2 linked regions of the Homo sapiens genome follow. The protein of the gene in region 2 purifies or fractionates together with the protein of the main gene of each other region. This does not show direct contact. Each region holds a gene or a part of one and is shown on either strand. Other genes may lie near its edges.

Evidence for each region.
Region 1: the proteins of KLK15 (region 2) and KREMEN2 purify together in Homo sapiens (affinity purification with mass spectrometry; one large-scale study listed by BioGRID and IntAct). This does not show direct contact.

Annotation. Positions count from the first base shown.
Region 1 is NC_000016.10:2,962,339-2,967,238, reverse strand, and holds the start of KREMEN2 (kremen protein 2 isoform d precursor), read right to left. Parts: upstream 2,965-4,900; 5' UTR 2,719-2,964; coding exon 2,625-2,718; intron 2,381-2,624; coding exon 2,206-2,380; intron 1,100-2,205; coding exon 1,008-1,099; intron 915-1,007; coding exon 790-914; intron 598-789; coding exon 444-597; intron 330-443; coding exon 1-329. UniProt on the Homo sapiens protein: Receptor for Dickkopf proteins. Cooperates with DKK1/2 to inhibit Wnt/beta-catenin signaling by promoting the endocytosis of Wnt receptors LRP5 and LRP6.
Region 2 is NC_000019.10:50,827,423-50,831,113, reverse strand, and holds part of KLK15 (kallikrein-15 isoform 4 preproprotein), read left to right. Parts: exon of another isoform or gene 1-15; intron 16-549; exon of another isoform or gene 550-584; intron 585-3,298; coding exon 3,299-3,452; intron 3,453-3,691. UniProt on the Homo sapiens protein: Protease whose physiological substrate is not yet known.

The DNA of each region.
Region 1 (4,900 bases), on a different chromosome or scaffold from region 2:
GTAGGTGAGCGCGAAGCCTTGCGCGTGGCCGCGCGCGTCGCTTCGGAAGGTGAGCAGCAGCGCGGCAGTGCCCAGGCGCAGCGGCCCGGACGGCGGTGGGCGGGCGCCATCGAAGGCGCGGAGCAGGCTGCCCGAAGCCGCGTCGCGCAGCTCCAGCCGGTCGCGCGGGTCGGCCAGCTCGAAGAGGCGGAAGGTGAGCTCCAGCGCGGCGCCTGGCGGGCCCAGGGCCCAGCTGCAGTTCCGGTCCGGCCCGTACTCGTCCGGGAAGTCCGGGGAGTAGATGACGCCCTGAGGCGCTGTCCAGTTCCCCTGGCAGGAGCCCACCGACACTGCGGGCGGGGCCGGCAGTCAGCATCCTGAGGACCAGGACACGGCGGCTCCCCTGCCCGGCCAGGCCCCACCTCGAGGCCCGCCCAGGCCCCTGGTCCCCGCCCACTCCTCACCTTCATAGACGCCCAGCCGCCCATCGCCGCCACACAGCTGTCCAGGGTGGCCGAAACAGATCTGGTCACAGTCGGTGGCGGGGGCCAGGCGTCCCCGGGCCAGGTCGCTTTCAGAGCCACAGAAGCAGGCGTAACCGGCCTCCACGCCCGCCAGCTGGGAGCACAGACTGGGTGACCCCAGGGCAGGGGCTGGGGTAGGGGTGAAGTGGTGGGGGCCTGGGGTCGGGGTGGGAATCGGGCTGGAGGTTCAGAAACCGGTGTCTGGGTTTGGCAACCGAGTGTTGGGAGTTGAGTGTGGTCTTTAGGTCCAGGTCAGGGGTCACTGGTCTGGGCCCGTGAGCAGTACCTGGTACCCCTTCATGCGGCAGAAGCGTAGGCACACCTGGACCGTGAGCTTCGTGGAGGTGCCGCTGGGGCCGCTGAGGGCTGGGGGTGCCCCTGAGTCCACAAAGCATCCCAGGTAGCCTGGCACTGAGGGGGCAGAGTCAGACTTCCGTGACTCCGAAAACAACCCTCCTCCCAGATGCAGCAGCGTTCCCACCTCTGTCCAGCCGCGCTACTCACTGTGACAGGAGGGGATGTCGCAGTAGCGCCAGTAGATGCCCTCCTCTGTCTCAGCCACGTAGCACCACGGCTGCACGTCACCGTCTGGGTTACTGCGGGTGGGAGGGAGGTGGTGGGGCTCCCACCACCCCAAGAATAGCAAACCCAGGCCCGGCCCCGCAGCCTATGCTCAAAGTGGCCTTCAAGGCTCTGTGCCTGTGAGCGGCTGTGCTGCCTGCTGTACACCCACAAATTCCAGTTTTGTCTACGCAGAACTCTGCCTGATGAAGGAACTGGACGTCGACTTCCGAGTGGACAGCGGGAAGTCATTAAAGGGGACTTGAGAGCTGTTTTTAGGCTTCAGCTGTTGCTAGACTTGACTCCATATATGAGGACTTTGAGGCCATCTGTATTCTTCACCCCCACCCGGCATGGGCCTCAGCCACTTCCGTCCCTCAAACCCCACTTTTTTTTTTTTTTTTTGAGACGAGTCTCGCTCTGTCACCCAGGCTAGAGTGCATTGGCGCGATCTCTGCTCACTGCAAGCTCCGCCTCCCGGGTTCAAGCGATTCTCCTGCCTCAGCCTCCTGAGTAGCTGGGATTACAGGCGCCCGCCACCATGCCCCGCTAATTTTTTGTATTTTTAGTAGAAATGGGGTTTCACCATGGTAGCCAGGCTGGTCTCGAACTCCTGACCTCAGATGATCCGCCTGCCTTGGCCTCCCAAAGTGCTGGGATTACAGGCTGAGCCACCGCGCCTGGCCTCCAACCCCACTTAAAAGCAGAAGTGAGCTCCTGAGCTTTGCGGCTCTCCTCCCGCTGGGTCCATCCTGCCTCAGACCGTAGCTGTGGCTCTGAACCCCAAAATAAGTTGTATGACAAGAGCCCCACTCTGACAAGGCCCCGCCCATTCGGCCCCCGCTCTGACCAGGCCCCGCCCATACGGGTCCTTTGAGTGCCCAGGTCCGTTTCTCTCCTGGCCCTGAACTGGAGCTCTGCAGAAATTGTTCACCTGAGGAGGATCCCTTTTGCGCCAGGGTTCCGCGCGCCCCGCCCCGCCCCGCCCCGCCCCTCATTCTGGCCCCGCCCCCAGGTTCTCCAGGAGGCTGGGCTGCCAGTCCACGGCAGACCTCCACCCCGCCCGCACGGAGGCCCCGCTTCGGGCCATCCCTGCAATGGTGAGCCCAGCCTCGCCCCCAGCGCAGGCCCCGCCCCTCACCGGCAGAAGTTGTGCGCGCCCAGCCCCCAGCGGCCGTGGGGGTCGCTGGCGCTGCTGTAGCTGTGTTGCTGCGTCTGGTCCCAGAAGAGGCACGGGCGGCCCGCCCCGCGCGGGCCAGTGCGGTTCTGGTGGCCGCGGTAGTCAGCCCCATTCACCTGGAAGCATTCGGACAGGCCTGCACGGCAAAGGCAGGGCCTGGGGAGGTCCGGACCCACGCCGGGCATCCTCGCGCCCCTACGCCACCTCCCGCCTGGGTCCCCAGCCAGCGACCCCGCACCCGCCCCTGCAGGAGCCCTCGGGCTGCTCAGCTGCTCCGGCCACCTGCTCTGTCCCCCTCCCTAGCCTTGGGGGCCTGGCCCTGGGGGCGGAGGCCGAGGAAGGGGTGGTGAACACGGCCCGACAGCCGTGCGGGGACTTACCTGGACTGTGCAGGCTCCCAGCCGAGGCCCCACGCGGCTGCAGCAGCGGGAGGAAGAGGAGAAAGAGGAAGCCCTGCAGGGCTTGTGTCCCCATCGCTCTCAACCAAGGATAGGTCACCCTCGCCCGGACACGGCCCGGGCTGCCCCCGGGGTCGCTTCGGGGTCTCCCAGGAGACCTAGGGGGCGTTGTCCTCTGACAGTCTCCCCTCGTCCGACTCTGAGCCGCGCTTTCCGTCTGGGGTGGGTAAATCTCTCCTGGGGGTCTTTGCCTCCCAGGGCCTCTGCCCCTAGAGGCGTCTCTCTGTCCCTGTCCCTACCCGGGTCTCTCCGGGGGGAATCTGGCCGGGGGCGTTCTCAGTCTCTGTCTCAGCGAGCTCTGGGCGGTGCCTCAGCCTCTACGCCCGCCCCCTCCCACTGAGCCTAGCTCTCGGCGTCTCCCTCGCCCAGGTCTCCAACGGGCTGACTCCTGCCCGCCTCGCATCCCTCCGTGGGTCCCTCCCCCTGGGTCTCTCCCTCCCCCCATGGGAGGCCGGGAAGCCCCGCCCAGCACTGGAGCGGAGGCAGCAGGTCCAGACGCCTCCCACGCCCGTTCCCCCGACCCCGGGCGTCCAGCGCTTCCCGGCCCCCTCTCCCTCAGGTCGGTGCCGGTTCAAGTGGGAAGGTGTGGAGGGGGACAGGCGGGGCAAGCGGACGGAAGGCCCTTAAAATGGGAGATACAGAACCCCCTCACGTGGTCGCACGCGCCCCAGGACACCCGGAATGTCCGAGTTACAAGCGCCCTCCTCCCAGTGCACGCACGCGCTCGCACTCTCTCCCATTCATTGCCAGGCGCTCACGCGCACACTTTCTTCGGATCCGCACGCCCCTCCCGCCCCTGGTCCAGATGCCGCTGGCCTGACGGAGGAAGCTCCACTCCCTGCCCCCGCGCCCACGAGACAGGCGGGAGTCGTGGACGCTCAGTCCGGGACAGGCAGGGGCAGCTGGTGTCTGGGGAGAAAGGCAGCTGCGCCCCAGGTCCCAGTCTGTCCCCTCCTCCTCCCCCTGCCCCGCCCTTCCCTGGGACCCCCAGCCCAGACTCTCCCGAGCCTTCACACTGCAGTGGAATTCCCCCAGCCGTGCCCCCCACCTGGCGGGGGAGGGGGAGGGGAGCAGGCCCAGGCAGGCGTGGGGGGAAATTCCCCGCCCCCTCCCCCTGGGCCCGACTCCTCCGAGTCCTCTGATCTCCCAGCGCCACCCGCCCGCTGCCCCCAGGGCTTGGGGGGAGGCCAGCGCAGGTGCGTGGGAGGGCGGAGGCGGGGGCCGGGGGAAGGAACTGGTGGGGGCCGGGCGCCCAGAGCGGCCCCGCCCCGCCCAGACCTCTTTGCCCCTCAGTCCAGCCTGCCCAGCCCGCACCAGGCCCTCGCCAAGCTGTCGAGCCCAGGCCGACCAGTCCCCGCCCTGCAGCCCCCACACCGTCTCTGCCCCGGTGTCGATGGAGAAGAAAGATGGGGTTCAGGGAGGTTCTGTCAGGCCCAGGCACCCACTGCGGTGCTGGGACCCGCGAGGATCTTCCAGCTGGCGCCTCACGCGAGTGTGCTCTGGAGGAGGGGCGTGGAGCCGAGGTGGGGGCATTTGAAGGAGATGGACTTGCTGAGACTCTAGGCCAGGGTCCTGGTCGCCTCCTCCGGGAGCCCTCTCAGAGGCCAGGCTGGCCCGGCTCACTGAGCCCTGAGCTGGGGCCTCCAGCACCCACGGGCTCCCTGGAACCCAACTGCGCTTCCCGACGAGGGAGCATCCGGGACCACCTGTCTGCCCGGTTTCTCTTGGCGGGGGCTCAGTGAAGTCCTCCCGGGCTCCAGTCCACAGAGGATGTCCTAGGGGCAGGCCTGCACAATGGCGGTGCGTGGGGAGCTTCACCCCCACAGCCACAGCCATCTGAGGATGGGGCAAGGTGGCGACAGGGACAATTAAGGACTCTGTGCGGAAAGGGGGCCGGCTTGGGACGCTGGTGGAGGAATCAGCCCCTTCCCTTGAGAGAGTAGGGTCTGAAAGAACCGTCCCTCTGTCCCTGGCACTGTGACACCCGGTTCGGTTGGCCCAGGCCTGTCTCCTCCAGAGGGGGCAGGGGGTGAGAGGAAGTGGGTGCTCAGTGCTGAGGCTGGGGCACTGAGATGGAGTGGGGTGGAGTATCCCTGCGGCAAACTTCAGTCTCAGGTCACTCACGGAAACTTCCAGAACTAAGAAGCCCACCCCCCACCACTTCCCCAGCATTTGGCACTCAGGGCTCTGCAAGCAGC
Region 2 (3,691 bases):
ATAAGACAGCACCCACTTGAGACAATAACAGTGAGGTCTCAATAGCATAACAGAGGTAATATACATAGCAAGCATTAGACAAGTGCTGAGAGGCCAACAGCACAGACAGACTCCAGCTTGAGTCCCACACCTGCCACTCCCTGTCTCTTACAGGGTCTTTGAGGGGATTAAATGTGGTTGTGTGTGAGGCAGAAGCATAAGCCTGGCCCAGGTAGTGCCCCTTCAGGTGTGCAAGCCAGGCACGGTGCTTAGAGCTTACATACAACGTCTATGTGTGGTGGGCACCACCGACCTCATTTGACAAGGGAAGGGGCTGTGGCTCAGAGGGACGGCCACAACATCAAGGTCACCTTGGGTGTCAGGCAAACTCCAGATTGAACTCAGCTGCCACACACCAAGAAATTAATTGTAACCTGATGCCTCTCTTCTGGAGAAATTGGGGGGTGGACTTTCATTAACGTTCTGCCACAAATGACCCTCACTCCTGGGGGCCCCTGAGACCCCCACGCCTCCAGCCTCCCCTCCGGCTCTCTCTGTGCACTCACCTACCTGCCTCGCGCCTGCCTGCTGCGCCCAGCTGGGGCCTCCACCTTCCTCTGGCTTGGACTGGCCAGGTGCAGCCTCGGTGCCCAGCTGTTCAGCCCGTACCCTCCGCCCTTCGGAGGACGACCTCACCCTTCCTTTGTTAAGCCCCTTGTCCACCACATCCGCATTCCCCTGGTCTCACGGGGGCCTTTGGCCCAGTTCCTGACTGTGATGGGGAGAGTGTGGGCATTTGGTCTGGCTGTGCAAATCCTGCCCCTGTGTGGGTGGGAGTGTGCATGGCTTCAACCTTCAGGGGATGCATCCACATTGCCCAGTGGAGAGGGGTCCTGGTCCTGTGACCTTGAATGTCTCTAATCATGTCCTTAAGCATAATGCCATTCTGTGTGTGTGTGTGTGTGTGTGTGTGTACATGCACGTGTGCAGTGGGTATACAAGGCCCTGTATGTTCACATCCTCTCCACATGCATGAGCCAGATCCCCATATGTGAAACCCAATCAGTGACTCCACAGATCTGGCTTGGGGGCTGATCTAGAGATGGATAAATATGTCCTGCCCTGGCTGCCTCTGGCTTCAGCTGCATGTCTTTGACCTTGAATGCCCAGCCCCGTGTCTGGGTGCTGCCCCAGACAGCAAGTCCACATCTGAGTGTTGGCCTTCTGGGTTGGTGTCTGCAGCTCTAACTCTACAAAATGTCTTGTGGGTGAATCACGGTTTTAACCTTGACTTTTTTTTGTTTGTTTGGTTTTTTTTGAGACGGAGTCTCGCTCTGCCGCCCAAGCTGGAGTTCAGTGGTGCAACCTCAGCTCACTGCAACCTCCGCCTCCCAGGTTCAAGCAATTCTGTCTCTGCCTCCCGAGTAGCTAGAATTACAGGCACGCACCACCACGCCCAGCTGATTTTTGTATTTTTATTTATTTATTTATTTATTTTTTAGTAGAGACGGGATTTCACGATGTTGGCCAGGCTGGTCTCAAACTCCTGACCTCAGGTGATCCACCCACCTCGGCCTTGGCCTCCCAAAGTGCTGGGATTACAGGCGTGAGCCACCACACCTGGCCAACCTTGACTATTTATTATAGGTAATTCTGTGCAGATGTCTGACTTATGTTGGCCATCTCCAGGATGGACCTGAACTTTCACACGTATGTCCCTGTGACTAAATCCAGGTGTCATTTGCAAAAAACAACTAATATTATTAAGTAGCTACCAGGGCTAGGTATCACTCACCATACATACACACATGCACACACACACATACACATTCCTACCTCATCCTTACAACAATCTTCATTTTACAGATGAGGAAACAGAGGCACAGACAGGTCGAATAACTTACTCAAAGTTTCACAGCTAGTACATTCGAACCCAGGCTTAAGGACCCATCTTTGTCCAGACCCTGTATGCAAGTGTCTGTGACACTGGATGCCAAGACTCACACTAGAGATGTTGAATTTAGGTCTGAACAATATCCAATTCTGTGTGTGTGTTTGTGTGTGCATGTGTGTGTGTGTATGTATTCATGTCTTAACCATCCATATTCATATACACATATGAACATCTGTGCTGTGATTCTTTTTTTTTTTTTTTTTTTTTTTTTGAGATGGAGTTTCACTCTTGTCACCCAGGCTGGAGTGCAATGGAGCAACCTCCGCTCACTGCAATCTCCGCCTCCCGGGTTCAAGCGATTTTCCTGCCTCAGCCTCCAGAGTAGCTGGGATTACAGGCACCCGCCACCATGCCCAGCTAATTTTTTGTATTTTTGTTAGAGACAGGGTTTCCCCATATTGGCCAGGCTGGTCTCGAACTCCTGACCTCAGGTGATCCACCCGCCTCGGCCTCCCAAAGTGCTGGGATTACAGGCATGAGCCACCGTGCCCAGCCTGTGCTGTGATTCTTGAAGCTGCAACCCATGTGCATGCAAGTGAATTTCAGCTTCCAGTCCTGTCCATAGCTGTACCTAAGTGTGGAAGCTGGATGTGCATGTATGCATGTCCATGACCTTGTATAGCCACATCTGGGACTCATACTGCACACTGAATTTGGCTGACATGTCCAGACTCTGGGGCCAAGGCTGGGTCACACATACTGAGTGGCCACATGCGTTTGACGTCTGTGACAATTTGGTGACCGTGAATGACTGGTTTCAAGTGACCACCTGTCTGAACCTGTATCCAGTGCCCCTGTCTCCACCCCCAACCACAGAGGACTTCTTGCCCTCTGGTCTGTTCCCCTTCCTCTCTCTCCCAGAGTCTTATAGCAAATGGGGTGGGGGCTAGAGTTCTGGAGAAAACAGGCAGCGGTTGTAAATAAACAACAGGGCAGGCGGAGCATGGTGGCTCACACCTGTAATCCCAGCACTTTGGGAGGCTGAGGCGGGCAGAGCATTTGAAGTCAGAAGTTTGAGACTACCCTGGCTAACATGGTGAGACCTCGTCTCTACTAAAAATACAAAAATTAGCCAGGTGTGGTGGCGGGCACCTCAGCTACTCGGGAGGCTGAGGCAGGAGGATCACTTGAACCCAGGAGGCGGAAGTTGCAGTGAGCTGAGATCATGCCACTGCACTCCAGCCTGGGCAAAAGAGTGAGACTCCGTCTCAAAAACAACAACAACAACAAACAAAAACAGGGCAGGGTGTCTTGAGAAGTTAGGGGAAAGGCATAGGCATATAGTAGTTAGGGCAGGGTGCAAGGAAGGTGTAGGAGGCAATGTAAACGTCCCTGTCCTCAGGCATCCTCTACCCCTTCTCTTAGCAGCCCAGGATGGTGACAAGTTGCTGGAAGGTGACGAGTGTGCACCCCACTCCCAGCCATGGCAAGTGGCTCTCTACGAGCGTGGACGCTTTAACTGTGGCGCTTCCCTCATCTCCCCACACTGGGTGCTGTCTGCGGCCCACTGCCAAAGCCGGTATGAAGGCAGGGGCTCAGGGTCCTGAGGGAGCCTGGTTCGGGGGGAAGAGCTCCTAGATTTGGGGGAAGACGGAGGCAGACGCCAGAACTCCTGGGTTCTGAAAGACGAGGAGGCCGGATGTCAAGCCCCTGGGTTAGGAAGGAGTGTGTGTTTCAAAGCCTTCGATCTCTGAAGGAGGAAGGAGAAGACTAGTTCCAGCTTTTGAGCCTCAGTTCTAGGGATGTGAGAATCCTGGA